2 separate regions of the Homo sapiens genome follow, and region 2 is linked to region 1. Evidence: fine-mapped expression QTL. A gene starts in region 1. The other region holds a variant in brackets. All regions are shown on one strand. Distances are between the middles of the regions. Region 1 holds the start of RIGI (RNA sensor RIG-I). Region 2 holds the start of LOC101060445 (a long non-coding RNA gene).

What was found.
Region 2: its variant is fine-mapped to the expression of RIGI in whole blood (TOPMed, PIP above 0.99). The same link has a PIP of 0.9 or more in T cells, blood mononuclear cells, lung and monocytes.

The regions. Positions count from the first base shown.
Region 1 is chr9:32,516,404-32,533,555 of GRCh38, reverse strand. RIGI (RNA sensor RIG-I) reads left to right here and starts at 7,360. Exons shown (of 18, transcript NM_014314.4): 1 at 7,360-7,495. The coding sequence starts at 7,390. RefSeq lists an enhancer at 7,210-7,459.
Region 2 is chr9:32,450,916-32,466,217 of GRCh38, reverse strand. It overlaps ACO1 (aconitase 1), which reads right to left. Exons shown (of 21, transcript NM_002197.3): 21 at 11,449-15,302. RIGI (RNA sensor RIG-I) reads left to right here. Exons shown (of 18, transcript NM_014314.4): 17 at 6,704-6,847; 18 at 8,800-10,916. The coding sequence ends at 9,096. It overlaps LOC101060445 (a long non-coding RNA gene), which reads right to left and starts at 7,176. Exons shown (of 1, transcript NR_197444.1): 1 at 770-7,176. The variant G/A (reference allele first, on the strand shown) is at 10,896.

The DNA of each region.
Region 1 (17,152 bases):
TCTGCCACAGTGTCCTTATCTATGCTGCTCAGCATCTCTTACTTGAGTCACCTCCCAACTGATCTCATTCTGGCTAGGAGCCAGAGAGGTTTTTAAAAAATGTAATCAGATTATGCTATTCCTTGATTAAAACCCTGCAGTATGGCCGGGCGCGGTGGCTCACACCTGTAATCTCAGCACTTTGGGAGGCGGAGACCATCCTGGCTAACACGGTGAAACTCTGTTTCTACTAAAAATACAAAAACAAAATTAGCCTGGCATGGTGGTGGGCGCGGGAGAATGGCGTGAACCCGGGAGGCAGAGCTTGCAGTGAGCCTAGATGGCACCACTGCACTCCAGCCTGGGCAACAGAGCAAGACTCCATCTCAAAAAAAATAAACAACAACAACAACAACAACAAACCCTGCAGTATGTTCTCACTGCACTTCATTCCTTGCATTAAAGGTGCTGCTGTTTCAGCTCCACTTGCAATACCATTTACTTGTTGCTCACAGAGTTCCAGCTACAAGCATCTTGCATCTTTCACTTTTTTTAAAAAACTCTTCTGTGCATTCTGTCTCCTACCTGCTTTTTTTTTTTTTTGAGACGGGGTCTGGCTCTGTTGCCCAGACTGGAGGGCAGTGGCGTGATCTCGTGATCTCGATTCACTGCAACCCCTGTCTCCCAGGTTTAAGCAGTTCTCCTGCCTCAGCCTCCCGAGTAGCTGGGACTACAGGTGTGTGCCACCACACCCAATTTTTTGTATTTTTAGTAGGGATGGGGTTTCACCATGTTGGCCAGGCTGGTCTCAAACTCCTGACTGCAAATGATCCACCCGCCTTGGCCTCCCAAAGTGCTGGGATTACATGTATGAGCCACTGTGCCCGGCCTACCTGCTTTTTTTTGAATAGCTAATTCCTTCTCATTCTTCAGGATTCAGCTGAAATGTGACCTCCTCAGAAAGGTATTCCCTTACCACTGTACTGAAATAGTTTTCTCCATGTCACTTCACATTTGGCAGTTACTATTTGTGTTTTTACATCTTTATTGTGTCTTCTTCCTCCTTCAATCAGACTCTAAGCTCTTGACAGAGACTCTTTTCCACTTATCTCCATGTATCTAGTGTTTTTCACAGTACCTGACATACAGTAGATATTCTGTAAATGTGTTGAGTAAATTAATGCCCAGGTGAGGAGATGGTCTAAGACTGAGATTTTTTTTTTAATTTTTAATTTTTAATTTTAAGTTCTGGGGTACATCTGCAGGATGTGCAGGTTTGTTACATAGGTAAATGTGTGCCATGGTGGTTTGCTGCACCTATCAACCTATCACCTAGGTATTAGGTGATAAGATATCACCTAATCCTTCTGTGATCTTATCCTTCTGTGACACTCCCCTTCTTTCCTGGCCTTGGTCAAATTTTACCTATGAATCTGTCAAATGATTCCATTTCTGGACCTTCAGTTCTTTCAGGTATAATCTATACTGTAATTGTTGATGTTTTCTAAATCTGTTGTTATTCAGGAATACATTATTTCCCACTAGTAGCATAGAAGGAGGCATGTCTTTACCTTTTTAAAGGAATTTTGGATCTGATTTCTTTTTCTCAGCTAAAACCCAAATCCAGGTATTGGAAGAGTAGCTTGCATGAGATAATAATTATAAACATAGGCAAAACATAAGGGTATAAAGAACTTGAAGCCACTGGAGGGCAATCAAAAAGCAGAAACTGGAGGGAATTAGACCCTTGAAAGACGGAGATGACACTGTATAAGAACAGTTTCTTTGGCATTTCATCTGAGGGTCATCCCCGGTCCATAGGGAGACTAGAATGCAAGCAGAGAGCCACAGACATTGTGTCAGAAGATGGACCCTGGGGCTGCCCGAGTGACTGCATTTTGAGGGAGAAATTTCAGAAAGTAGACACAGAAAACAAGCCCTAAAATTTTTGTATAACTTTCACTCAAATCTTTACCTGACCCTGAAATGTACATGTGCAGGGAAGATTCCAAAAAGCCCATGTAAGCAATAGCTGGAAAGCTAAAAGGGCTCAATAGATACATTTCAGCCACCACCACAGGGAATATAGAACTTGGAGGTTGAATCCCACCAACTTAGATGGGCTGAGAAACATGTAGGACTTTTCACTGGAACATGCAGGGCCACAGCTTACTGTGGAAGACTATGACTCAGGACTAAGGACTTACCTTGCAAGAAGGGCAAAATTTGAAACAGACCTACCACAGTGTGTAAACAATGCCTTTGTAAGTTTAAAGTAATTCATCGGTAATTCAGTGGAATGCTAGAACAAAAAGTAATACTCTTGAGAGTAAAATAATAGAATCCAGAGATTCTATAATACATCTGTAGCATCCAGTATAAAAAAAATACTAGACATGTGAATGAACCCATAGTCAAGAGAAAAAGCCGTCACCAAAACAGGTTCCAAGATGGAATTCACAGACAAGGGCTTTAAAGACACTATTAGAAATATGTGTATGAACTTAAAGGAAAAGATGGTTTAATGAATGAACAGATAGTGGTTCTCAGCTGAGACATGAGAAGTAGAAAAAAGAAACAATGGAAATCCTGGAACTACAAAAAAAAACAAAAACAAACCTAAAATGAAAAAGTTACTGGAAGCCTTAACAAATTGGAGAAGACAGAAGTGAAATAACATTAGTTGGAAACCAGTGTTTACCAGAGGCAATGAATAGCACCAGAAATAGCAAACAGCATGGAAAAACAAAAACTAATTTTTTTCTTATTTTACTTAAAAGACAACAAGCTATAACAAGGTTTATAACATTGTATTATTGTAGTATGTATTTTATAACATATAGAAGTACAGTTTCAGACAATGATAGCAAAAAGGATGGGGTGGAATTACATGGTTGTGATGATCTTATATTTTACCTAATGTGGTACAATATTAGTTCTAAATAGATTAAGTTGAGGATACATATTATAATCCTTAGTGCAACCACTAAATACACACACACACACGTATAAAATAATATGTAGAGTGTATACAAATATATATGTGTATGTGTGTATGGAGAGAGACCTATAGCTAAAAGAATACAAAGAGTTATAGCTAAAAGAGGTTAAAGTTATATTTGATTAACGTATATCCAAGGAGTCCATTTTACTGGATGACACAGCAAAACCCTGTCTCTTAAAAAAATAAAATTATTGAATTAAAAGTTTGTTCTTTGAAAAGATGCAATTGGTAAATCCCTGGCAAGACTGATTTTTTAAAAAGGCAAAAAAGATAATAAGGTCTATCACGAACACCATATGCCAATACATTTAACAATTTAGAGGAAATGATCAAATTCCTTGTGTTAAAATATAAACTTTTCCACATTAAAATTTCAAGCTGGCCAGGCGTGGTGGCTCACACCTGTAATCCCATCACTTTGGGAGGCCAAGGTGGGTGGATTGCCTGAGCTCAGGAGTTCGAGACCACCCAGGCAACATGGTGAAACCCAGTCTCTACTAAAAAAATACAAAAAAATTAACTGGGTGTGATGGCACATGCCTCTAGTCCCAGCTACTTGGGGGCCGAGGCAGGAGAATCTCTTGAGCCCTAGAGGTGAAGGCTGCAGTGAGCCAAGATTGTGCCACTGCACTCCAGCTTGGGCTACAGAGTGAGACTCTGTCTCAAAAAAAAAAAAAAAAAAAAAAAAAAAAAAAAAAAAAATTAAGGTGTTCCAGCAGTGATTCATAAATTAAGCAGCTACAAACCAGAAATGGTCTGGGGCTCTGTTAGAGGGGGTTGAAGGGACACAGAGCAAAGAAATTGTTTCATTGGTTAAAGTTTGAGTGTTTGCCTTATTTGGACTATCCAAGTGAGAAATTTATGACAATATAACCAATGTCCCAGTTAGCCAACTGTGATTGGCTAAACTAAGTTTCATTTTCCTCATGAGGGTGTTACAGCTACATCAGTCTAATGGCCTACCAATTATTTTAACACTTGAGAAGCACAATTTATCAAAACTGATTAAAGATTAAAAGTCAGAATAGCTTTATATCTAATTGAGAAATTGAATTCATTATAAAGAATCTTCAAACAAGGAAAATGTCAAGCCCAAATGGTTTTATTAGTGAATTCTGTTAAACATTTAAGGGGAAAATGATACCAATCTGAAACAAACTCTTGCTTTATGAGACTAGCATAACTCTGATATCAAAACCTGATAAACACATTACAAGAAAATAAAATTATTGACTAATATTCCTCATGAACACAGACACAAAAGTATTTATGAAAATACTCATTTGGTCATGATATAGCATCCTTTGTATCTAAAACCAAATGAGATTTATCCCAGGAATGGTAGGTTGGGTGAACGTTCAAAAATTGATCAGTGAAATTTGGTATGTTAACAGAATATATGATCACCTCAATAAATGCAGGAAAAAACATTTGAAAAATTCAACACCCATGCATTATAAAAACTCAGCAAACTAGGAATAAAAGAGAACTTCATCAATCTGATAAAAGGTATCTAAGAAAAATTTACAGCTACCATATTATTTAAAGTGATTATTATTACATTGATGATTTCCCCACTGAAATTAGCAATAAAGTAATGGTGTCAACTGTCACCACTTTTATTCTATTTTCTATAGGAGGCTCTAGGAGGTACCATAATAAAGAAAGGAGGCAAAAAGCATGAAGACCGGAAAGAAAGAAGTAAAACTGGCTGGGCATGGTGGCTCATGTCTGTAATCCCAGCACTTTGAGAGGCCGAGATGGGCGATCGCTTGAGTTCAGGAGTTTGAGACCAGCCTGGGCATCAGGGCGAAACCCCATCTCTACAAAAAAATACAAAAATTAGCTGGGTGTAGTGGTGTGCACCTGTGGTCCTAGCTACTCAGGAGGCTGCAGTGGAAGGATCCTTGAGCCTGGGAGGTGGAGGCTGCAGCAGCCTGGTTGACAAAAGTGAGACCCTGTCTCAAAAAGAAAAACTATAATGAAAGGAAATAAAAGGCATAAAGATTGGAAAGGAAGAAGTTAAAGTATGTATTCACAAATGACATCATTATTTATCTAGAAAACTTAGAGGAATTTACAGAACAATTACTAGAACAAATAAGTGAAGTTAGCAATGTTGCATGTTTTAAGGTCAAAAAACAAAAATCACTTGTATTTCTTTTTTTGTGTGTGTGTGTGAGATGGAGTCTCACTCTGTCGCCCAGGCTGGAGTGCAGTGGTGCAATCTCGGCTCACCACACCCTCCGCTTCCTGGGTTCAAGCGATTCTCCTGCCTCAGCCTCCCGAGTAGATGGGATTACAGGCGCCCACCACCACGCCCGGCTATTTTTTGTATTTTTAGTAGAGATGAGGTTTCACCATGTTGGCCAGGCTGGTCTCGAACTCCTGACCTCAGGTGATCCACCCACCTCAGCCTCCCAAAGTGCTGGGATTACAGGTGTGAGCCACCACACCCAGCCAATCATTTGTATTTCTATACCGTAGCAACAGACAATTTGAAAATGAAATCTTAAAAACAATTCCATTGACAGTAGCATCAAATAACATAAAATAGTTCAGAATAGCCAGGTGTGATGGCCCGTGCCTGTAGTCCCAGCTACTCTGGATGGCTGAGGTAGGAGGATTGCTTGAGTCCAGGTGGATCCCTTGAGCCCAAGAGTTCAAGGCTGTAGCACACTATAATTGTGCCTGTGAATAGCCACTGCACTCCAGCTTGGGCAACATAGTGAGACTCCGTCTGTAAAATAAAATGAAACAAAACTAAAATACTGCTGAGAGAAATTATAGACCTAAGTAAATGAAAAGGCATACCATGCTTATGGATTAGAAGACTCAATATTGTTAAGATGTCACTTCTCCCCAAGTTTATCTGTAGGTTCAATGCAATCTTGATCAAAATCCCCATAAACTTTTTTTGGGGGAAGGAAGGGGTAATTGACAAGTTGATTCTTATTTCATATGGAAATGCACAGGGATTCAAGGTTGCAGTGACCCCTGTTTGCACCACTGCACTCCAGCCTGGGAGACAGAGTGAGACCTTGTCTCAAAAAAGAAATTAAAAAAAAAAAAAAAAAAGGAATGCAAAGAATCTCAAATAGCTAATATCTTCACAGTGAAAAACAAATTTGGAGAACTTAGTAGTACTTGATTTTGAGACTTAGTTGAAATCTAAAGTAACCTAGAGACAATGGTATTGTCAAAGTAGTAGGAAGTAGAATATAACAAGAGTCAGAAATAGACACATATACATTCAATGGACTTGGTTTTTTTACAAAGGTCCCAAGGCTATCCAATGCCAAAAGGAAAAGTTTTCAACAAACGGTGCTGAAACAATTAGAAATATGGAAAAAGTGAACCTGGACCCCCCATCTCACGCCACAACAAAATTATTTTGAGATAGTAATAGACCCAGAAGTAAAGGCTAAAAATATAAATCTAAAAGGAAACAATATTTTCATGACCTTGGGGTAGGCAAAGATTTATTAAAGAGGACACAAAAAACAACAAACAGAAGAAAAACCTGAAAATTGCATCAATATAAGTGTCTGCTCCTCAAAAGACACCTTTAAGAAAATGAAATGGTAAGCCACAGACTGGAAGAAGATATTTCGAATACATATATTTAACAATTTTGTATCCTGAATAAATAACTCCTGTAAATCCATAAACCAAAAAACTCCAAAGTCAGGCAAAAGATTGGAGCAGATGCTTCACAAAAGATATATGAATGACCCAGTAAGCACATGCAAATGTGCCCACCATTAATTATATGGGAAATTAAAATTAAAACCACAATAATATACCATTTCACACCGACCAAGATGGAAGTTAAAATTAAAAAAAAAAAAGAAAGGCTGACCAATGTGTCTATCTACTGGAGCTCTCCTACTGCGGGTGGGAATGTAAACTGGATGTAATCAGTCATTTTGGACAACAGGTGGCGGTTTCCTATAAAGCTAAACATAGACTTACCCTGGCACCCAGCCGACGTGGGAGAACTGGGTACACAGGTGTACACTTTACAAAACTCATCGAATTGCACACTCAGATTGTGTGCATTTTACTGTGTCTAAACGTTAGCGCTATAAAAGCAAAACAAAATATAAGATCATAAAAATAAAAGCAATTCCTAGGGGTCCTCTCCGTTCCCGGGCTTCCTCGGTGCGGAGGGAAACGAAACTAGCCCGAGGCAAAACAGCCTCCGCGAACCCCGCCCGCCGCTAGTTGCACTTTCGATTTTCCCTTTAGTTATTAAAGTTCCTATGCAGCTCCGCCTCGCGTCCGGCCTCATTTCCTCGGAAAATCCCTGCTTTCCCCGCTCGCCACGCCCTCCTCCTACCCGGCTTTAAAGCTAGTGAGGCACAGCCTGCGGGGAACGTAGCTAGCTGCAAGCAGAGGCCGGCATGACCACCGAGCAGCGACGCAGCCTGCAAGCCTTCCAGGATTATATCCGGAAGACCCTGGACCCTACCTACATCCTGAGCTACATGGCCCCCTGGTTTAGGGAGGGTGAGTGTCTCCAGCGGCGCCTTCTCGGCGGAAAACAATTGAGGACTTGTTTTTCTCTTGCTTCGTTCCCTTCTTTTAATCAATGCAGAGAGCCTGCCAGACTCCCCAGGTTTGTGGTAAGATCTCCGCAGCATTTTAGGCTAGAGGTTGCCAGAGTTTGAGGAGCCCTCGGAGGCCTAGGTGGGGAAACTGAGTTCCAGCGAGGTGAAGTGACTTGCTTAAGGGTGCTCATCTATTTAGGTTCAAAGCTGGGGAAGAAATTTTGTTTCATTTATTTTCACTAATATTAAAGTCTACTGTGTGCTTGGCTGGGTACTGACAGAGATTGAGAAATAAGATAAGGGCTCTTCCTTAGTATACATTACAGTCCAAGGGATGGGACACAAAGGGCAGATAATTACAGTACTGAGCACAAAGTGCGGTCTGAGCTTAAAGGAAGTTGATGCTTACTCTGCCGAATCTTATTTGCACGCCTAAAGAAGTGGAAGCTGGAGAGGAGCCGGACTTTTCCAGACCGAATAGCTTTAGGCTTTAATACAGGTGTTTCCATCTAACTTCGGAGACAGGTGATCCTGGGTAATGACCATTTTGTAAATTTGTATCGAATTACTTTGTGCTGGAGATGAGCAGAGGCTTCTGGGAAAGAGGTGAAAGGAGGTGGTACTTAAAAGATATCGATGAGGCCGGGCGTGGTCCCTCACGCTGTAATCCCAGCTGTAGAGCACCCGATGCTGTTGCTGTTCGGGGTGCCACTATGTAACCCGCACGGACCTAGGGGACTGAACAAAGAGGGGCGAACGCGGGAATAAAAGACAAGAGACAAAAGAGTATATCTGGAAGAAGGGGTCAGGGGGCACCTTGCCTCTAGTGGACAAGGGCCCTGAGCTTTACACAGCCCTTCTTATTAGGCAAAAGAGATAGCGAGAAGGGGAGGTGCTTGTTGGCTGGCTGCTTGATTCACAGCAGGCTTGCAAGACTGCATTCTTTGAACAATAGGTGCTAGATTTCTCAATAAATAATTTCAAGGAGCCTGGCGCCAGGGAGTGAGGCGCTCAGCAAACCATTTGGTGGCAAGGCAGTGTGAGTTTGCCCAGGTGCTGCATTCATGATAAACAGTTTGCTGTTTGATCATATAGCCTCCAGCGGAATGCTGAGTTGGTCACATCCCAAGGGCCTTCGGCTCCCTGCAGCCAGCACTTTGGGAGGCCTAGGCGGGTGGATCACAAGGTCAGGAGTTCGAGACCAGCTTGGCCAATATGGTGAAACCCCGTCTCTACCGAAAAATACAAAATTAGCCAGGCGTAGTGGTGCACTCCTGTAGTCCCAGCTACTCAGGAGGCTGAGGAATGAAAATCGCTTGAACCAGGGAGGCAGAGGTTATGGTGAGATCGCACCACTGCACTCAGCCTGGGTGACATCGTGAGACTCTTGTCTCCAAAAAAAAAAAAAAAAAAAAAAAAAAAACCGAAAAACAAAAAAAAGTCGATGAGAGGGGGCCTGGGAATCCTAAAAGTCTCCAAGTGCCAGTCTTTCCTGATGTTATTGCAGTTTTTGGAAATGGCGTTAAGACCGGCAACTAACTTGAATGCTAATTGCTCTACAAAACTAAAAGAAAGGTTGTGGAATGGCATTCTAGTGACCAGTGTAGCTTGGCACCTGAAGAAGTACTTGGAAGAAACACTAACAACTGGTGTGAATTCCATTTTTTCATGCACTCATATATTGATTTGATACACTTTGATGGAATAAAATAAGCAACTCGTGTCAGTATTATGTTAGCATTGGAGGTAATTTACTCAGCACCTATTACCTAATAGTGTCATTGAAAGTTGAGGAAGCAATGATGAGCACAGTAGAAACTGTCCCTGCCCTAATAGTGATTAGTGTGTCTATGTGAATGCAGGTAACAAAATAGTAAATAATAAAGTGCAGCAGTGCTTTGATGGAAAAAAGCTGGGATGTCTACTAGAGTCCAAAGGGCACAGCCAAAGCTTCCCAGATATTTGGCATTTGAACTGAGGTCTAAAGAAAGAGGAAAAATTAGCTGGAAGGAGACAATAAATTGCAGTTAGAGGGCTCCTTATGTGCAAAGGTCCAAGGTGAAAGAGAAACTAGAGTGTTCCAGGTATCCAGAAAATATTAGTATGGTGGCATTGTGGAGAGAGAGGCAGGAGTTCAGAGAGATGAAACTTGACAGGCAAGCAGAAGTGGGATATGAACAGTTTTGGACTTTATCCACTGAAATGTGATAAGGAGAGGGGACCAAAATAGAATTTGCATTGTAGAAAAACGACTTTGACTTCAGTTTGAGGAATGGCTTGAATAGGTACAAGACAGGGAGAGAGAGAATGGCAGATGCAATGATGCCAGGACAGCAGAGTGGAAAAACTGGAAGCAAGGATACCAGTTAGGAAAATAGGAATCCGGAGGAATGGGGAGAAATGGATGGATTCAAGACACATTTGGAAAGTATAATCAATAGGTCTCTTGGGGAGTTGTGGTGAGGAGGTAAGGGTGAGGACAGGGTGGAAATGACTTCCAGGTCTCTGGCTTTGGTCCTTGGGTGAATAAATGGTAGTTTCTGAGATAGGAAATGTGGGAAGAGGGACAGGTTTGCAGGAGGAGGAGAAAAATTCGGATTTAGGTATGCTGGGTTTGTATGCCTTGGATACATCCATGAAGAGATGTTCATCAGATTGTTGGCTGCACAGGTGTGGAGTTCAGGAAAAGGGTCCACAGTTGGGGAGACATTAATGTGGAGATCCTTGCTGAAACAATGAGAGTGGGTGCAATTGTTACTGAAACACCAGGGATTCAGCCTAGGTTCTTTTGCTGGCTGCACATAAAGCCAATCACTGAGACAACAAGTTTTGCCAAGGCTTTAATTGGGAGCTGCAGCAAAGGAGGTAGGAGATCAGTCTCAAATCCATCTCCCTGACCCGTTGAAATTAGGGGTATGGATAGAAGGAAAGAAATATAACTAGGTGTTGGAAAATGGACTCTGGAGGGGTAAGGAAGCAATCATGATAAATGAGGGGCCTGGTGTCTCATTGTCTGGATGTGATGGTCTGATGAGTTTCAGTTCTTTTATACCTTTTGAGAGGCCTGGGGGTCCTTTTCCTGGGGAAGGAACTCAGATAAAACAAATATAAGTTTCAGCTTTAAGATCAGGAGGGTCAATTTCCATGTTTATTCGAAAGAATTGTATATGGGACTATTGTGTTGGTTTCAGTCCCCCTCTTTCTATTTATCAATTCCTGGATCATGGGGAATCTGATCCTCAATCTTTCTGGCAGCTTCATGCTGAGGAATGGCGTGGTGGGCAGTTCCATACTATGGGTGACCACGTGGCCATCCAGGAATCAAAAGTTAATCTAATACTATAGTTTTCTTCTGAGACACAATCTGTATCATTACTGTTCCCCGCTTCCACCAAAGACATATCACAGCTGGATGGGCCTACCTGCAAAATAAGCCTCAGTTACATATACTTGGCTTATTTACCCACACAAAGTGCAGCAAAAATTATTGTCCATATGGGCTCTCCTAATTGGCTTTGCTGGAACCTCTCACAAGGCCATTTCAGTCAAAGCCCTGGGAAAATAACTTGTTCCTCCAACTGTGTCCCCTTATAAAAGAAAACAGATTTTTATTAAATGTATGCAAGAAAACACATTGCCATGAACTAAGAATATTCACAAATAGTTTATAAATTCTGGAGAAATTAGGGAGAGAGAAAATGCCTCAAATTCTGTTTAAAAGGGTATACTCTACTTAATATACTGTATTCTTAAAGGTTATGAAGAGCTTAAAAGAAAAAATTCTCCAGATTCCAAAAAACAAAAATTCTCCAGACTTTTTCAAACAAAACCATAAAAAATTATTTCAGTCCCACATTAGTTCAGTCCATGCAATCAACTCCTGCTGTGTTTCATATTGGGTTAGTAATCTTTATAAACATGTCAGCCTTTTAATTAAGAGGGACTCTAATTAAGAGTCCTAGAAGTTTTCTGTATTCCAGTGGCACAGTCTCCAAAGTTATCAGAAATCTGCATTCAAGACTCCTTTTCATGAAGTCCCCTAAATAAACAAGCTCTGGACTATATCTGATTATAAGTCACTTTTTGAAAAGAATCAATGCAAAACAACAATTGCAATGACAAAAGTCTTAGGAGAGCCATAAAGACACAGTTGACAAGGAAATTTTTTTTTCTGTTGGCATACAACAATTTAACATAATAATCATCATTACTGACACCATATATTAAGACATATCAGAATTTTAGGAATCTCATATAGTCCTGCAACACATATTAATAGCACATCTATACAAATATAACCCAAAGGAAGTTAAATACCACCTCACATTTGATAATGCTGCCTGTATAATTCTAATATACCAAAGAAGCCTAACATGTCTGTCTGTATTGGAATTCAAGGAAGCTAATACACAAAAAAGTTAGTTTGAGGTTAAAAAAAACCCCCTGAATTTAGAACTTGAAATATTTGCTGTTGGGAAGTCTGTCAGTATCAAAGATTTAAGACACTTGATATCACAAAATAGGATCACAGGTCGCTACAAAATAGTTATTCATTTAGCCAAAAAGATAAAACAAACACATTTACCCTTTGATAGGCGACTCAGTTTCCCAACAATAAGGCCTAATAAAGACAGCATGAGGCCAACTAAATGTCTCTCCCTCTTCCTTTTCTTCCCCCCACAGTTCACTCAAAAGGTAAACAAATATTTTATGTCAATATTATACAAACATTTTATTCAAAAGAGAACATCAAATTTTACCTTTGTATGGTATATTTTTAATGTTAAAGCTAATTTTAATAAAACCTTATAAGCCGAATTTTAATCAGTTTGACTATAAGATAGGATTTCTGTGAAGTTTTTTTTTTTTTTTTTTTTTTTGAGATGGTGTCTGGCTCTGTTGCCCAGGCTACAGTGGTGCGATCTTGGCTCACTGCAACCTCTGCCTCCTGGGTTCAAGCAATTCTCCTGCCTCAACCTCCCTAGTAGCTGGGATTACAGGCCATGCCACCACACTTGGCTAATTTTTGTATTTTTAGTAGAGACGGGGTTTCACCATGTTGGCCAGGCTGGTCTCCAACTCGTGGCCTCAGCTGATCCGCCTGCCTCGGCCTCCCAAAGTGCTGGGATTACAGGCGTGAGCCACCACACCCGGCCTGAGTCACCAGCCCCGGCCTGAGCCACCACGCCCAGCCTGAGCCACCACACCCAGCCATCTTTTTATAACGTTTTACGATTTCCTATTAAAGAGTAGAGTAATGCTCCAAGAAAACCCTGTTATGACACAGGGGCCCAGACATTGGCCTTGCATCAGTGTGCTTTTGATGTTAATGTTTAATTTATAGAAAAACCCTGAACTAATTTTATAACTCAAAATCAGCCCTTACAAGCTCACGTGCTCACCTTTTGTGCAATAGTTCCTGGGCGTAGAGGGATTGAATGGTTTTAATTTCTAGCCCTATGTCTCATGAAAGCAGTTCATTTTGATTGTCACCTTCTCCTGAGTCTGAAGACGAGGCTTCATTTGGTGTCAGTGCTCAAGATTTAGCAGGTATTGGTGTCTTTTTTGGATCCAGGAGTCAAAGGCCTTTGAATTACTAAATAATTGTTTCCTAAGAATTATTTAATAGCATATTTATACTGCAGGAAACCTCATCATTCTCTCTAATATGTCACAAAATAAAACCCTGGGATTTGGTGCCTAGTAGTTACTGTCTGAAACACTTCAACCCATTATACAATCCATTGTATTAAAGTGGTTAGGTTACTCCTTGCATTTATCTGCTAGCATTCTAGTGACAAAACTGTGACCTAGAGCCTCAAAAATGTGGTAAGTCCTGTGCCAAACTTACCAAAGTAAGATAGTTAACTTTTCTTTCCATCATTAAAAAAAAAAATGGTAAATGCAAGTATCAGTTTTGGAAATTCAATATGAAGATAAATCTTTCATTTAAAAAGTATACAACAAAACAAGGACAAAGTGACAATAAGCACACAGTAATTTCTTTTCAGCTATTTTGAAAGAGCCTCATCATACATTTCCAAGATTGGTTTCTAGATAAAGTACTGACAACTGATTTAAGTGACTTACACCACTAGAATCTTCAAACTGGCATAACACTTGTATGTACATATTTTGTTTTCAAGTATACATGTGAAGGCCCATCAGTGATAAATGGCTTAGGATAAAAAAAACACTAGAAAGTCTTATAATTTTTTTTATGACTTAATCCAAGTAAATGTTATTTAATCTTAATAATAGTAAACACAACTAAATTAGTTTGAGAGAAAGCCCAATCAATATAATTTCCTTAAAGACAAAGCCAATTTTTTTCTGAATATTAAGACTTTGTACCCATATAGCAGTTTTGCCTCATTAAAGGAAAAGATCTGAAACCGCTATTGTTTATTGAATTGAATTACCTTGGAAATAAACACCACTTAAACATTTCTCTCACCTACTTTTCCAAATAACCAATAATAATGTACTATTTCTGTTCAGAACTTAGAAGAATAAACCTTTTATTATTTTTTGCCAGGAATCTTAAAGTTCTTATAGCTCTCTAGTTCATTAGAGGTAAGCAAAACCAAACAAATTTTAAAGGCTGGTGTCCACCAACAATTTTTGGAAGCTTGAAAAAGGTAGCTTAGGAACTTTGGATAAGTAGAGCAAATGATGAGATACTGGAAATGCATAGGAAACAAAATGATTATTCATGGAACCAAATAAAAGCCTTCCTTACATTAGAAACTAAAAGCCATCAATGGTTTTATTAATATGTATATATAAGTAAAACCTAAAGAAGAAGAAACAGCAAATAAATGCAAATTAAAAGAAAAAACAAACAGGAAACCAACCTGAAAATTTTCTACTCAGTTTAACTTGGAGGCTATAGTGTTACCCAGAGCCAAAAAAACACATGATGAATATTTTGTTCCTGATGCACAATTTAATGTCTTTAAGTTCACCAATACCACTATATATTTTGTGCAATTAAGAAATTCACTTTAGGCTGGGCGTGGTGGCTCAGGCCTGTAATCTCAGCACTTTGGGAGGCCAAGATGGGTGAATCACTTGAGGCCAGGAGTTTGAGACCAGCCTGGCCAACATGGTAAAACCCCATCTCTACTAAAAATACAAAAATTGGCCAGGCATGATGGCACACAACTATAATCCCAGCTACTCTGGAGGAGGCCGACCAGTAAGTATTATACTGTAATGATAGTATATCTATGCAGAAGAGCAAATACAGTGTGAAGCAATGCAAGCATGTAGGTGAAATTTGGTTGTTGCTATATCTGGCTTTTATCTGGCTTCATGGTTAACTATATTAAGAAAGGATTGCCAAACTGCCAATGTGTTTCTTTACAATATTTCTTATTTTACTTTCATCAAGACTAAGAGCTTTAACTATGAGCAGTGTTAATTAGCCAGATTTCTCCAATATTCTATCTGGTTTTAAGAGAATATTATTTAAGCCTTTTATACTTTGTATTTTCTCTGTCTGTACATAAAGGTAGACACACAAAGAAATAGGAAAGAAACTACATGACTTACACACACCATCTATGATATGCTTAGACTTTCTGATTTGTCCTGGATTTTCGTTCTTTTTCTTCTTCTTTTTTTTTTTTTAAACAGTCATTTTACTTTAGGACAAAAAAAATACCATTATAAGATGCTTTGTCATACAAAATTATTTTCTTTATAACCTTCCTTACCAAAAATACATCTTTATACTCATAACTTTCTCCACATCTCTCTCGTCTACTTGTTCTTTTCTACCTTGTTTCATAAGTAACCTTTCAAGTCCATAATTATTAATAAACTTTAGATAACTTCTGAGTTAGATAAAATTTTTTTCTGAATAAAAACACATTGTCTTTTGCACATTTTATATATAGAATTACATATGAACTAGAATTCTTATCCTTAGTAACAACCTTAAATTTCAGTAAAAACCTAGGAAGCAAGAAATCTTGAGCTGCCTAGCAGATATTAGTATTTTATAGATGAGAACCATTCCACAATTTTTAGAAACATGTTCCCCACATCATAACCTTTTCTTAATTGGAAATGACTCAAACATCCAATGATTATATTTCCGATTATGCCAAAAGTTCATTTACAGCATTTGACCATTTACATTTTATTTATTTTTAGCAGTTTATCTAGATTATTTCTGCATCATTTCCTTCTTAACCATTTTATAACCTGTGAATGTCAGGTGTTCACCTAAATAACCTTAAAATTAATACGTGGGCATTTTGATCAATAACTCAGAAGATTCAGCTGTTTTCATTAAACTAACAGCATTAAATTAGTCTTATAAAGAATTCACACAAATATTCACTGGGTTTATAGCTTTATAACCTGCTGCCAAACTCTGATACCTCAAATTATCTAGCTGAGACAAATATAAAGCCGAGACAAAAATGTATGCTGACAATTCTGAAGACATTTCTATTTTTATTTTACCAATAATTTTAAAGACAGCTTGTTTATTAAAGATTTACTGAAGTCATGTGAACTTGAAAAACACTTTGGACTTAATTTATGAGCACTCTTATTTATAAGCCAATTTGGTAGGTATAGTGTATAACATAGTTAATGTACATCTAGATAAACACATCTAAACATGTATACACACACAAAGATCCAACAGCTTTTACCTTGGAACTCTAGCCATGAGATAGCAATACAAACTCACGAATCTACAACCAAGTCCACATGGCTAAAATTTGTTTGCTCCAATCGGTAATCCAATGAAGGCTGTGAACCAGAATTTTGGGTAAAGCAGTTTCCATGGCAGTTTGATTTTTAGAAGCTAGATTCCAAAGAAACCTGGGGCCAAACAGCACTACAGAAGAACGTCATGTGGAAACTACTCACCAGGCCCAACCCTGCTTAAAACAGCGGCATAAAAGCCAGAATACATGGGACTCCACCTGGCTTTCCCATTCAACAGCCAACTCCAGATTCCAAAGAATATTGGGGCAAACGTAGTACAAAAGAATATTTGTTTGTTGAATTCTAATTTCCCATTACTATATTGACACATACAATCAACAAAACACAATCCGACTGCTGAAGCAATAGACAAGCCCGAACAGTGTCCAAACTGAAACAGTCGAGGTGCTTTTCTCTCTCAATCGGGCTTTATTAACCTGCAAACAGAAATTTCTTAGGAATTTTCCAAATTGAGAGAAGCCGATCCCACTGTCTGGTACCCAAAAAAGACACTAACTTGGCCAGACACAAACACAGAAATTACAAACACGCTCTCTAGAGTATCATACTGAGAGTCAGGGTGCTTCCCTTTCTTAGTCAGTTGGGCTGGTTTAACCTGCAAATGGAAGCTCCTTTTAAAATTTTCAAATTGAGCAGATCTTGCTGTCTGGGCCAAGAAAGGACACTCACTTATCCAGATGCCAGTGTCACATTTCAAAGGCTGTTCTTCCTAGCAATCAGGAACTCAGCTGGGGCTGGCAGCAGCAGGGCCAGAGAGACCAAAACTCACTTCCAGCCAAAATTGGGTGGGCAGTTGCTTAGGAGGGCTTCTGAGACTCCTAGACCACAGCAACCCAGCCACAAAAATCTGTTACTGAAGCACCAG
Region 2 (15,302 bases), 66 kb after region 1:
CTTTTATCATATTGCTTAGAGTGTTATATTACAACAAAAAGTTTATACTTAGTGAATATTAAATTCATTCTGTTTTTAAATGTCAATGAGGTTAAATTATATTTAATAGTGCTAATAACTGAAGTTATGTTTTCAGATCTAAAAGGCAAATTGAGCTAGGATTTCTCTAGTTGACAGTTCATCTCGAGGACTATATCCTAATACTGGAAAAAACAGCTGTTCTTAGTCTCTTCCTTAAATCTCTCTCCAAAGAGTCCTCAGAGAAAAGCTCCTAGGTCACTGTGCAGGTATTGGAATGTCTTTTTATAGCTGTGGACAATGATATACACCTTGGAATGGGATGCCTATTCAGATCAACCTCTTAGTGTAATGACCTTCATTTCATTGTAATTTCCGTAACACAGAAACATGAAATCAGATTGGAGAAAGTCAAGAAACACATACCCATACTTTCTCCAGACCCATTGCAGAGATTTTCATCTCAGAATCTCTGGAAGCATGATCACTGCAGGGCTAGGGGAGAGCTTTAACACTAGAATCCATGGTTCAAATCCCAGTTCTATCAGTTGCAAGATGTGTGACCTCAGGCAGTTGCTCTGTCTTTTAAATAATCAATCTCCTCATGTAAAAAGTGGGGAAAATAATAGTATTTAACTCCCAGGGTGGTCATGAGGATAAATGAGATGTATGCATTGCATCTCTTAGCGCCTGGCATAAAATACGTGCCCAAGAAATGAGAGCTGTTACTGGACAGAAGTGTGAGACATAGTTTAACTTCATGAAGATGAACCTTACAGTTTAATAGACCAACTCCATAGTGTCTATAATTTTAAAAAGTCATAATCTCTGTGCTCCAAAAAGTATTGACCATCAATTATCTAAAGCAGATTAACACTTATTTTAGGACACAAATCAAAACTTTGTCAATGTTTACTAGTCTAAAAACATTTTTCTTCCTAAAGCTGGGAGATTAAGTTATCTAGAACCACCTCTTCCACATTTTCAGTGAGAAGAATTGCAGGGAAATTATTTAGTTCCTCCCTTAGTTTTACTGGGGATGGGATTCTCTATTCTCTCTTCACTGAGCCACCTTTCCATTTTGTAAAATATATTGCCAATACACGTTTTAAAACCACGAGTTTTAATAGCCATGGCATAATTTTTATCTCTTCTCCTAGGTGACAAGCTACTTAGACTCATGTGACAGAAGCAACAGAGTAAAAGTCTGTTGAGGAAGAGAGAGGCTAGACCAGATGTAGGCATTCTTTTGTAGCCAGCACACCAGGATAAGGAGTGGGGTGAGGAGGAAATGGGTTAAGTATCTGTTGAATCAGGCTATGTAATAGCATTTGGGGTTCCCGTAACACTTACAGATAGATAGGCAGAGATGGTAGGGAACAAGAAGCCCTATAACCAGTGTAGCTGGGAGTTACTGGCAGCTGGGAAGCCTGAGTTGTGTTGGTATCCCTGTCCTATCATACATGACCAGGCCCAGCTGCCCTGCTCAAAGGGGAAGGATTTGCTTTCAAAGGCTTAGTAAAGGCCGGGCGCGGTGGCTCATGCCTGTAATCCCAGCACTTTGGGAGGCCGAGGCGGGTGGATCACGAGGTCAGGAGATTGAGACCACGGTGAAACCCCGTCTCTACTAAAAATACAAAAAATTAGCCAGGCGCGGTGACGGGCACCTGTAGTCCCAGCTACTCGGGAGGCTGAGGCAGGAGAATGGCGTGAACCCGGGAGGCAGAGCTTGCAGTGAGCCGAGATCGCGCCACTGCACTCCAGCCTGGGCAACAGAGTAAGACTCCGTCTCAAAAAAACAAACAAAAAAAGGCTTAGTAAAAGTATAACGAGGTAGGGAAAATCTTATATTCTTAAGACTAAAGGGAATTATGGTTCTAGGGGTGAGCCCCCCTTTTGTGGGTGCTTTGATAAGGGTTTGGGGTTTGGGTTTGAGCATCCTGGTCCCTGTATATGGGTTTTAACGGAAGGAAGGAACTCTGCAGAACAGAGGGCAAAAGCTTGGAGCTCTTTAGGGCAATCTGCAAGAACAGGAAAGGGAGAGGGATGAGCAGAGTACTGGCAGACTGCTTTCTTCCCCAGCGCCCCAGCTGTACTGTCCATTGTCTGTGTGTGGCCTGCTGTCACTAGAGCACTCCCCATCCCCCGCCCCAGAATTCTCTGGTCACTCTGCAGCCATCTTAACATGTAGACAGCCCAGAGGTATCCAAGAACTGATTTCCATGGTGGACGCTTCAGGATTTGGTGGTGTTTCATTCTGGAGGAATAAGGGATGAACGGTATGACAGTTGTGGTTGTGAAGGTTTATTTGAAATCAGAATGAGGAGGAAGCTGTTTTTCTTTCCTCATGGAGCAGAGAATAAAGATGGGGTGAAAGAAAGTTCATTCTGAACAAAGAACTTCCAACATGCATACCCATGACTACACATAATTAAGATAGTTTGCTTTTCTCCACCTCAGTGTGTGGAGCTAGGCTGCTTCTTTAGCCACAGGTTGCATGGGTGAAGGTCAGTATGCCATAGACTTAACTTATGATTGGTTGAGCCTCTTTACCCAGTTATTGATTTTTACTTAGTTTTAAGTATAGCTGTAATAGTTTTAACTTATTAGGATTTATACCTATTGCCTAGAGTAACACTTAAAATATTTGAGATTATTAGTATTTAATTGAATTTCAGTATATAATTGAATACCATTATAAGTGAATTTTTTTAAAAAGTTGGATGCCTGAAAGGCAAGGTTATATTTTCACCTTCTTTCCTGGTAACCTCTATTCTGCTTAAGTAGTGATTAGAACCATATCTGAAAAAGAAATTAAAAAAGAAAATTAAAATTGCTCATAGGAAAATGTGTATCATATAACCCAGGGATTTCAATTCTAGAAATTTGTCCAAAGGAAAGAATGGGATAAATACATATAATGTAACAGTTTTACAACTGAAAAATTGGATTAAAAACAGGAGGCCTGGACACCCTTTATTTTTACAAAAATAATGAAGATAATTTCAGGTGGGATGGGGCCAAGAAGTGGGGAAGGGGAAATTATATTTGGTTTTTAATTTTTTAATTATTTCTTATTTATTTTTTTGAGACAGAGCCCAGGCTGGAGTGCAGTGGTGTGATATTGGCTCACTGCAATCTCAGCCTCCCAAGCAGCTAGGACTACAGGTGTGTGCCACCACGCATCACTAATTTTTGTAGTTTTAGTAGAGATGGGGCTTTGCTATGTCGCCCAGGCTGGTCTTGAACTCTGGACTCAAGTGATATGCCAGCCTCGGCATATCCCAAAGTGCTGGGATTACAGGCGTGAGCTACTGTGCCCAGCCAGTATATTTGTTTTTTTAAATCAAAACATTCTAGGTCTAGCTGGGCATGATGGCTCACGCCTATTGCGCCAGCTACATGGGAGGATCATTTAAGCCCAAGAGTTCAAGTCCAGCCAGGGCAACATAGTAGGAATCTATCTCAAAAAGGGGGAGTGGGGGAAAGGAAGCCGGGTGTGGTGGCTTACACCTGTAATGCCAGCACTTTGGGAGGCTGAGGTGGGTGGATAACCTGAGGTCAGGAGTTCAAGACCAGCCTGGCTGACATGGTGAAGCCCCATCTCTACTAAAAATACAAAAATTAGCTGGATGTGGTGGCACCTGCCTGTAATCCCAGCTACTTGGGAGGCTGAGGCAGGAGAATCATTTGAACCCAGGAGCTGGAAGTTGCAGTGAGCTGAGATTGTGCCACTGCATTCCAGCCTGGGTGACAAAATGAGACTCTGTCTCAAAAAAAAAAAAAAAAAAAAAAGCTAGATCTAATTTTTTTTTTATATAAAGCAAATTTGAATTTGAAGTGGTATGGTAATCAATATATTATCTATGTATGATCCGTAACCAATTAAAAGATATAAGGGGGAGGGAGATTTCCATTCGCAGTGACAATAAGTGTAGCTCATGCATGTAGAACACTGACTCTCCAACAGTCCCTGCAAATGCTTTACTTACATCAATAGGCTTTACAGCAATCCATACAGTAGTGCCTCCTATGTCATTTTATAGGCAGGAAACTGAGACTTGAATAGCTTCAGTGCCAGTAGATCACACAGCTAGTTCATGGTAGAGTTGGTAGAACCCATCTGTTTCACCATTACATCTACCAGCCTAATCAGAAAAGTTTGAAGCAGAAATGAGGACAAATAAAAAAATTTTACTGGGAGATATTAAGATAAAAGAAATGCCATGCTCTTGAATGGAATGACTGAATATTTTAAACACGTGCATTCACCCCAAATTTGCTTATTCACGTGTCACAAACCATATTGAAAGCATAAATGATACTTTTAACTTGATAAAATGGTTCTAGAGTTTATATAAAATAATAAATAGATGAAAATAGCTATATTTCTAGAAAAATAAAAATGGGGGTAGCTAGTAGTTTCGTATTGATAAGGCAATCCCTAATGAATGGAGATTGCCTTATCAATACAAAACTACAAGCCACCCCATTAACATTTTCATGGCTCTTAGCATAAGACTAGCCTAACAGAGAAGAGGCAACGGTGATGGGCATTTACCCTGTGCTGGGCAGGCCTGAGCAGTCATAAACTCATGTTATCTCCTGACAGTCCGTGAAGCAGATGCTATTGTCCCATTTTGTATGTAAAGAAACGAGGCACTTGCCCCAAATCACATAGCTGCTAAGTGACAGGGACACTATTTGCACCTAGGCTGTCTGGATCCACCTGGGACACGTGAAAGCATAATCTGATATGGAGAGGCGCCACCATAAACCATAAACCAGTGGGACGGACAGAATCTTCCATAGAAGACATGGAGGAAATCAGTGTGTTCTTTCTTCCTTCATGAGGCTTCAGGGTTCCTTTTATCATTTCCTCTGTTTAGAAAACTTCTTTTAGCCATTCTTTTAGGGTAAATCTGCTGATGACAGATTCTCAGTGTTCCTTCATCTAAGAATGTCTTCATTTCTCCTTTATTTTTGAAGGTGGCATTTTGCTGAGTCTAGGGTTCTGGGGTGGACTGTTCTTTTCTTTCAGCGTTTAAAAAATATTGTGCCACTTCCAGGTAGCCTCCATCGTTTCTAATGACAAATCTCCTGTTATTCAGACTGATTTCCCCCTATGGGTAAGGTGTCATTTTTTTTTTTTTTTCTGGCTGCTTTCAAGATTTTTTTCTTCAGTTTTCATAAATTTAATTATAACCTGTCTTAGAGTGTTTTTTGAAGGGGTTTATCCTGTTTGGAGCTTGTTCAGCTTCTTGAATCCTGGTTGATGTAGCTTGTTAAATTTGGGATATATTTGGAGGTCATTTCTGTGAATACTTTTTAAGCCCTGCTCTTTCTTCACTCCTTGCAGAACTCCAGTGCCATGACATCATTTTTTATAGTCCTACGGGTCCTTGAGACTTTGCGCTTTTTTTTTCCCCAGTGTATTTTTTTGTTGTTCAGATTGGGTAATTTCTGTTGTTCTTTCAGTTCACTGACTCTTTTCTTTGTCCCTTCCATTCTGCTATGGAAAGCCCATCCATTGAACTTTTTATTTTGGTTGTATCTTTCAGTTCTAAACTTTATGTCTTCCATTTCATTGTTGAGCCTTTATGTTTTCTCTTTATGTTTCAAAAGTATTTATAATTGCCCATCGAAGCATCTTTATTAGGTGCTTTAAAATCTTTCTCTTCTCAGTGTTGGCATCTATGATTGTCTTTTTTTTTCATTCAGTTTGAGATCTTTCTGTTTATTGGTATGAAGAGTTTTATAATATCATGTCCATGGTTCTAAGTTGGACCATGTTCTTAGCCAAGGCCTAGATTTTGAATTAGAATACAATCATACTATACATATGCAACAATATTCCCTGTGGCTGAAGGGGAGAGAGAAAAAAGGTTTTAGATGTTGGGGGCTGTATTAGTCTGTTTTCATGCCACTGACAAAGACATAACCGAGATTGGGAAAACAAAGAGGTTTAATTGGACTTACAGTTCCACATGGCTGGGGAGGCCTCAGAATCACGGAGGGAGGCAGAAGGCACTTCTTACATGGCAGCGGCAAGAGAAAAATGAGGAAGAAGCAAAAGTGGAAACGCTGATAAACCCATCAGGTCTTGTGAGACACAATCACTATCATAAGAATAGCACAGGAAAGACTGGCCCCCCATGATTCAATTACCTCCCCCTGGGTCCCTCCCATAACACGTGGGAATTCTGTTAAGATACAATTCAAGTTGAGATTTGGGTGAGGACACAGCCAAACCATATCAGGGGCTCTTCTGCCTGTTGTATCACTCACTGAGTTTGTGCCTGCAAATGGATATAATTATGCCTGAAACAGCGCATATTGTATATCTGGTACAGGTTTTGTTTTTTTTCCCAAGTTTTGCCAAACACTAAAGTAGAAAGCATAGTTCATATGACTATTCTATGGACATCTTTAGTGCTTTTATGAGCATTTTTGATGAAGAAATTGAAAGACTAATTGGAGGCCACAATTAAGCATTGACTAATACTAAGTTAGGAGAACCAATAAAATCTGTGATTTTACAAAGTCAGGTACCATATGTTCATGGAAGTTGTATATGAATGATTATACATGTGCGTGCATGTATATGTATTGTACGTATCTGTGCCTGTTTCTTGCTATATATGTTGTACTCAAATTACATTTGCGGTCTTTCTTTTTGCATTAGATTCTGCATATACAGACTCATGAAAAATTCATCAGAGATAGTCAAGAAAAACCAAAACCTGTACCTGATAAGGAAAATAAAAAACTGCTCTGCAGAAAGTGCAAAGCCTTGGCATGTTACACAGCTGACGTAAGAGTGATAGAGGTAAGCTGCCTTTTTACAAAGTGCCTGGTCATGTTTTAGCACTAGCTACAGCTTACTGTTGGTGAAATATTTATAATAAAACTACTATTATTTCCATTGTTACTGTGGCCATGATCTGTGTATTTAAAAAAAGCTAAGAAGTGAAAAAAAAATACTAAATGTTCAATAATAAAGAAATAGTTTTTGGCCAGGCATAGTGGCTCATGCCTGTAATCAAAACACTTTGGGAGGCCAAGGTGGGCGATCACGAGGTCAGGAGTTCGAGACCAGCCCGGCCAACATGGTGAAACCCCGTCTCTACTAAAAATAAAAAAGTTAGCTGGGCGTAGTGGCAGGTGGCTGTAATCTTAGTTACTCGGGAGGCTGAGGCAGGAGAATCGCTTGAACCGGGAGGCAGAGGTTGCGGTGAGCTGATATCGCGCCACTGCGCTCCAGCCTGGGTGACAGAGCAAGACTCTGTCTCAAAAAAAAAAAAAAAAAAGTCATGCTAAATGCAATGACGTGTCCTGGATTAGCTCCTGGAACAGATAAAGGATACAACTAGAGAAAGAGTGGTAAAATCTGTAGTTTAGATAATAGTAATGTACTGATGTTAATTATCTTGGTTTTGACAAATGTGCTGTGGTATATGAGATGTTAACATTTGGGGAAACTGGGTAAAGGGTATGCAGAAATTTTCTGGGATATCTTTGCAATTTTTCTTTAAATCTAAAATTGTTCCAAAGTAAAGTTTATTTTAAAAAATTATGAAGTTTATGTAGTATAATGAAAAACTGCTTACAAACTAATGGTAATAAGGAAAAAAGTAACCAGAACACAGAATTGTAAAGATGCTACTTTGTAGCTGTGTGAAACAACAGCAGCAAATACATTCATTGTCATTGTCAAGAGAAAAAGTCAAAAAACCTACCTTGCTACAGAAAAACAAAGGCTAGGGGAACTATACCAAAATGTATTAATATTTTGGTGGTGAGATTCCATGACTTTTTTTCTCTTTTCCTACTACCTTATGTTTTCCAAACATTCCTTTTGGGCTATGGATCACTTTTATAATGAAAACAAAATATCTCCTTATTTGTAAAATGTGACATCTGCAGATTAGCCTTCTATTGCAGCCTTATATTTCTTTCTTAAAACTTTCAGAGAAAGGGTTAGAAAAATCTCCAAAGAGAAATATGGGGTATAACTCTTGCATGGGGGGCACAGTGGAGGGGCTGGGCTGGCTCAGATGAGGAGTTATTACTTCAGGATGTTCCGTTCGTCTTCAGAAAGCAGAAATCTCTCATCAGCTCAGCTGTTTGGGCAAAAAGCCTATTAGGAGTCATATTGCTAAGTTCCCTTACCTTTCTAAGTCTGCTTCTTTAGCTGTAAAAGGTCCTTTCAGCTCCAATTTGGGTGATTGTTCTACTAAAAATGGCCCTTTTAGACCCTATGTTTTCCTGAGGGACTAGTATGTTGGATCTGCATTTGTTTCTGAGCTGTTTACTCTAAAGTTGACTCTAGGTGGGGCCTGTGGACACATTAGTCCCTGACCTTCTTCAATTGCATCTTGACCTTGGTCGTTTTCCCTGTATCCTTTGGATTGTGCCTGCCAGGGCCACTGGTGAACTTCAGCTTCACAAATTTTCAGCAAACATCGCTTCTGTTTTTGAATAATGAGTATCTACCTTCAGAAGCTGGGTTACCTGGAACCTTCTTAATCTTCTTCTTTATGAGGTGCCCAGTGTCCTCACTTGCAACCCCACCCTGCCTGTAGAGGGGAGTCAGGTGCATGGATCCTCTGGACTTTGGGTGAATCTATTTTTTTTTTTCCTCCAATTGTAAAATAAGTGAGACCCACCTGTTCTTTGCCTCAGATTATTGTGGGGTTTTCTTTTTTTTTTTTTTAAATCACAATTATGTACTGGTTCTAACGTTCTCTTTTGTGTGTTATTCCATCCCTTCATCTGTAGGAATGCCATTACACTGTGCTTGGAGATGCTTTTAAGGAATGCTTTGTGAGTAGACCACATCCCAAGCCAAAGCAGTTTTCAAGTTTTGAAAAAAGAGCAAAGATATTCTGTGCCCGACAGAACTGCAGCCATGACTGGGGAATCCATGTGAAGTACAAGACATTTGAGATTCCAGTTATAAAAATTGAAAGTTTTGTGGTGGAGGATATTGCAACTGGAGTTCAGACACTGTACTCGAAGTGGAAGGACTTTCATTTTGAGAAGATACCATTTGATCCAGCAGAAATGTCCAAATGATATCAGGTCCTCAATCTTCAGCTACAGGGAATGAGTAACTTTGAGTGGAGAAGAAACAAACATAGTGGGTATAATCATGGATCGCTTGTACCCCTGTGAAAATATATTTTTTAAAAATATCTTTAGCAGTTTGTACTATATTATATATGCAAAGCACAAATGAGTGAATCACAGCACTGAGTATTTTGTAGGCCAACAGAGCTCATAGTACTTGGGAAAAATTAAAAAGCCTCATTTCTAGCCTTCTTTTTAGAGTCAACTGCCAACAAACACACAGTAATCACTCTGTACACACTGGGATAGATGAATGAATGGAATGTTGGGAATTTTTATCTCCCTTTGTCTCCTTAACCTACTGTAAACTGGCTTTTGCCCTTAACAATCTACTGAAATTGTTCTTTTGAAGGTTACCAGTGACTCTGGTTGCCAAATCCACTGGGCACTTCTTAACCTTCTATTTGACCTCTGCGCATTTGGCCCTGTTGAGCACTCTTCTTGAAGCTCTCCCTGGGCTTCTCTCTCTTCTAGTTCTATTCTAGTCTTTTTTTATTGAGTCCTCCTCTTTGCTGATCCCTTCCAAGGGTTCAATATATATACATGTATATACTGTACATATGTATATGTAACTAATATACATACATACAGGTATGTATATGTAATGGTTATATGTACTCATGTTCCTGGTGTAGCAACGTGTGGTATGGCTACACAGAGAACATGAGAACATAAAGCCATTTTTATGCTTACTACTAAAAGCTGTCCACTGTAGAGTTGCTGTATGTAGCAATGTGTATCCACTCTACAGTGGTCAGCTTTTAGTAGAGAGCATAAAAATGATAAAATACTTCTTGAAAACTTAGTTTACTATACATCTTGCCCTATTAATATGTTCTCTTAACGTGTGCCATTGTTCTCTTTGACCATTTTCCTATAATGATGTTGATGTTCAACACCTGGACTGAATGTCTGTTCTCAGATCCCTTGGATGTTACAGATGAGGCAGTCTGACTGTCCTTTCTACTTGAAAGATTAGAATATGTATCCAAATGGCATTCACGTGTCACTTAGCAAGGTTTGCTGATGCTTCAAAGAGCTTAGTTTGCGGTTTCCTGGACGTGGAAACAAGTATCTGAGTTCCCTGGAGATCAACGGGATGAGGTGTTACAGCTGCCTCCCTCTTCATGCAATCTGGTGAGCAGTGGTGCAGGCGGGGAGCCAGAGAAACTTGCCAGTTATATAACTTCTCTTTGGCTTTTCTTCATCTGTAAAACAAGGATAATACTGAACTGTAAGGGTTAGTGGAGAGTTTTTAATTAAAAGAATGTGTGAAAAGTACATGACACAGTAGTTGCTTGATAATAGTTACTAGTAGTAGTATTCTTACTAAGACCCAATACAAATGGATTATTTAAACCAAGTTTATGAGTTGGTTTTTTTTCATTTTCTATTTGTATTTTATTAAGAGTGTCTTTTCTTATGTGATTTTTTTTAATTGCTATTTGATATGGTTTGGCTATATGTCCCCACCCAAATCTCATCTTGAATTATAATCCCCATGTGTCAAGGGAGGGACCTGACGGGAGGTGATTGGATCACGGGGGCAGTTGTCCCCATGCTGTTCTTGGGATAGTGAGTTAGTTCTCATGAGATCTGATGGTTTTATAAGTGTTTGACAATTCCTCCTTTACACACACTCTCTCTCTCATCTGCTGCCATGTAAGACTTGCCTGCTTCCCCTTCTGCCATGATTGTAAGTTTCCTGAGGCCTCCTCAGCCATGTGGAACTGTGAATCTATTAA[G/A]CCTCTTTTCTTTATAAATGACCCAGTCTCAGGCAGTTCTTTATAGCAGTGTGAAAACAGACTAATACACTATTGTTTAAGAACTCCAATAGGATGTGTAAAACATCTACTAGAAATAGATTTAATAAGATAAAAGTTATTATTATTATTTTTTTTTCTGAGATGGAGTCTCACTCTGTTGCCCAGGTTGGAGTGTAGTGGTGTGATCTCGGCTCACTGCAACCTCTGCCTTCTAGGTTCAAGTGATTCTCCTGCCTCAGCCTCCCACATAGCTGGGTACAGGCACCCACCACCACACCCGGCTAAATTTTTTTATTTTTAGTAGAGTCGGGGTTTCACCATGTTGGCCAGGCTGGTCTTGAACTCCTGACCTCAAGTGATCCACTTGCCTCGGCCTCCCACAGTGTTGGGATTACAGGCGTGAGTCACCATGCCTGGCCAAGAAAAGTTCTTTTAAGTATGTAAATGATTCAATTTGGATGAAGGTGAATAGCCCTATTCAGCCAACTGAGGCAGGCAGACTGAAGTGAAAATAAATAAGGAGAACTTAGCATTTCCTTGTTTGACTTTTAATGGAATAATGTCATTGCCAGGCATGGACTCAAACAAAGTAGGCACTTGGTTAATATGTATTGAATGAAAGAAATGAGCAGGTAGGCTTTTAGGAAGTGGATCTTTTGACTGACTCCCAAATGCTGGTCATTGCATTTCTAGAACAAAGGCCACATTTTAGAAACAACTGGGGAGTCTTTTTCATGGACACATGCCCAGCCCCATTAGAGCATCCTGGCAGGGTGTCCAGCCGTGTATGTTTTGAAGCTCCTGTGGTTCAGACACAACCTGTTACACAACTACCACCTTGTTATCTCTGTGGTCCTGGCCTGTGCTGATGCTGTGATATTTTCACCCTGAAATGAAGAGTCATCCCAACATCAAGGTCAGTAAACCAATTCCTGTCCTTAAAATGGATTCATTATTATTTGAATTTCAAACAACAGACCAACCATAGCTCAATGTTTCTCAAGAGTATCCTGTGGAGCACAGTGCGTGAACGCCCAGAAGAAAGCAGTCTGTGGTCAGGTGGGTTTCTGTGCCATTTGCTGCCACCTTCCCTGCAAACAGTGATTTACAGCACACATTGTTCTTGTGTCTGTTCTGCAGTGATAAAACCCATTTAACTCAGTGGTTCCCAAATGTACTGACCGTGGAACTGTTTTACTCAGGGGACACTGTTAACATCCTGTAGAAGCACAGTAGCAGGTATCCAGCCTGCATACGATAAGACAACCAGAACCAAATTTGGCAGGTACATGTCTGGAACTCTGTTTCATTATGCCGTAAAATAAAACTACGAATTTCATTCAACAAATCTGTACTGAATAAGTAGGCTTCACTCTTGGGATGTCAACTTTTAAAACTTACTTAATATCAGCTATCGTTATATAATCTTTGTTCATAATGACGCTGTCTGGTTGAACACAAACTGGCTGGGTGTTAAATTCCACTTGTGTTTATGATATTTAATAATGTCCTAAGAAGGCAGCCAGTAGAACCTTGGCTACTGTTTTTCAAAAGTGGCTCTGCATTGCTCCTACATAACCCCGTACATTACTCCACAGTCCTGTTAGAGCCCTGAAAGGGAAACTGCTAAAAATAAGGTTCTTCATTTAGGTGACTAGGAACTCCCAATATTTTTGCCCTAGGGAATACTGGGAGACAAATCTCTACGATCACAAATTACTAATGGTTTCCCCAGAACTGCTGGTGGCCATATCCCCTGGCATGTGGAAGGGCCCAGAAGAGGCCACTCTACTGCAGAGGCCAACAGAAGGTATGATTGGTGGAGGGATGGGGGGGTGGTTGGAGGGGCAAATGGAAGGGAGCTTGAGTCACTAGATCCAATCAAGCCCATAGTCATGGCCACCACTGTCCTCAAGTTCTATGAGCCAGCTTTTTTTTTTTTTTCCTTAAGCTAATTTGAGCTGTGCTTCTACCACAGCTAAGATTCATGCCTAATATATCTTTTCCCTAGATTACTCCCTATGTACCATAAAAATCTGGTGTGTAAATACACATGAAGGGCATCCCTCATCCTTATTTGCTATATTAAAAATATTAACTAACTCTTAGCTTGCTGCGGATGCCAGGAATGCAGTAATGAATTTGGAAAACTATCCAAACAAACAGGGGAATCTTCATTCGCAAAGAATATGGGAGGGAGAACAGCAGATTTTTAATTTGGATAGTAAGACGAGCAGCCCTTAAAGAACCAGGTAAAAGAAGTTGGTTTATTTAGGCTTGTTAGTGGGCAAGGTTGAGACACTGGCCAAGATACTTTTTTTTTTGGGGGGGGGGGGGGTGGTGATTGATTGATAGGGTCTCACTCTATTGCCCAGGCTGGAGTGCAGTGGAGCAATCATAGCCACGACCTCCCAGGCTCAAGTGATCCTCCCACCTCAGCCTCCTGAACAGCTGGGACCACAGGTGCACACCTGGCTGATTTATTTTATTTATTTATTTATTTATTTTTTTTTTTGTAGAGTGTTGCCCAGGCTGGTCTCAAACTTCTGGGCTCAAGCAACCCTCCAGCCTCGGCCTCCCAAAGTGTTGGGATCATAGGCATGAGACACCGTGCCTGGCGAAGATATTTTTACCGAAAAGGACAGAGGGTGTACTTGGAGGTAAGGGACCCAATTCCATTAGTCTAGCCACAATAATGTGTTTGTTTCCTCATAACCACAGTCTTGGTTGGGCTGCTGTAACTAAATATCAACTGGGTGGCTTATAAACAATAGAAATTTCTCACAGTTCTGGCTGGAAAGTCTAGGTTCAAGGCACTGGCAGATTCAGTATCTGGTGAGAACCCACTTTCTGGTTCACGGATGGTGACTTCTTGCTGTGTTCTCCCATGGCAGAAGAAATGAGGGGGTCTCTATCTTATCTTGAGTCTCTTTTAAAAGGCACTACCCTCATGATCTAATCACCTTCCAAAGGCCCCAGCTTCTATTACCATTACCTGGGGGGTTAAGGTTTCACCACCTGAATTTTGGGGAGGATACAAAAATACAGACCACAGGAGCCACTGAATGCGGGGAGCGAGACAGCTCCCCAGCTGCTCAGTAATGGAGAGCTGAGAGGGTGGAGGTCTGTTTTCTCAGCCATTCTTAGTGTTTTTATTCTAGGACTGATCTTAACTTGAGGATCACAGGTTTTTTTGTACAATGGAGTTCTGTTTGTTTGTAATTTTTTTTTTTTTTTGAGACGGAGCTTTGCTCTTGTAGCCCAGGCGGGCGTGCAATGGCACGATCTCGGCTCACTGCAGCCTCTGCATCCCGGGTTTAAGCAATTCTCCTGCCTCAGCCTCCTGTGTAGCTGGGATTACAGGCACACAATACCACACCTGGCTAATTTTTTGTATTTTTAGTAGAGACGGGGTTTCACCATGTTGGCCAGGCTGGTCTAGAACTCCTGACCTCAGGTGATCTACCCACCTCGGCCTCCCAAAGTGATGGAATTATAGGCATGAGCCACTGCGCCTGGCTGTTTGTTTGTAATTTATTTTTTAAATGAATATAAATAAGATCCCCAGGACCGCAAGTGCAGGGATGCTAAATAACCTGTCTTGATCCCTCATCTGGTGAGAAGTAGAAAGAGGATTAGATTCCAGATGTTCTGATGACCAGGCCATATCCCCTGAGTGCTAAGGTTGACATTAAAAATTCATTACAAAGATCCTGCCCTCCTGTCCTTGGACATCACAGCTCCTGCTTGTTCCTGGGCATTCAGACTCTGGGACTTATACCAGCATTCCCCATGCCCCTCCCCAGGTTCTTAGGCATTTGGACTTGAACCAAGTTGTTATACCACCAGCTTTCCTGGGTCTCCATAAGAGTGGGACCCTGATCCAATACAATTAGTGTTGCTGTAAGAAGAGACATGAGAGCCTATTTTCTCTCTCCCCCACCAGGCACATACCAAAGAAATGCCATGTGAGAACAAGCAAGAAGGTGGCCATCTGTAAACCAGGAAGAGTGTCCTCACCAGAAAATGAAGTGGCTTCAACTTTGATCTCAGAATTCCAGCCTCCATAACTGTGAGAAAATACATTTCTGTTCTTTCAGCCAGTCTATGGCATTACATTATAGCAACCCAAGCAAACTAAGGCATGCCCAGAAATGACTACAGGGGTAAAAATGAGCAGATAATTGGTTTTTAGTGTCCTGAAGTTTATCTGCTTTTCCTTATGTACTTATATCGTTGCCACTGCCACCAGGCTACTCTTCCTTCTTGTCTGCTCCCAAACAGGGAAGAGCGAGCATAATGGTTCCTAAACATTTCCGTTATACCCGTACAGTTCTGATAGAGTTGTAAAAATGGGAGAATATGAAGGTTATTCAGGCTTCCCAA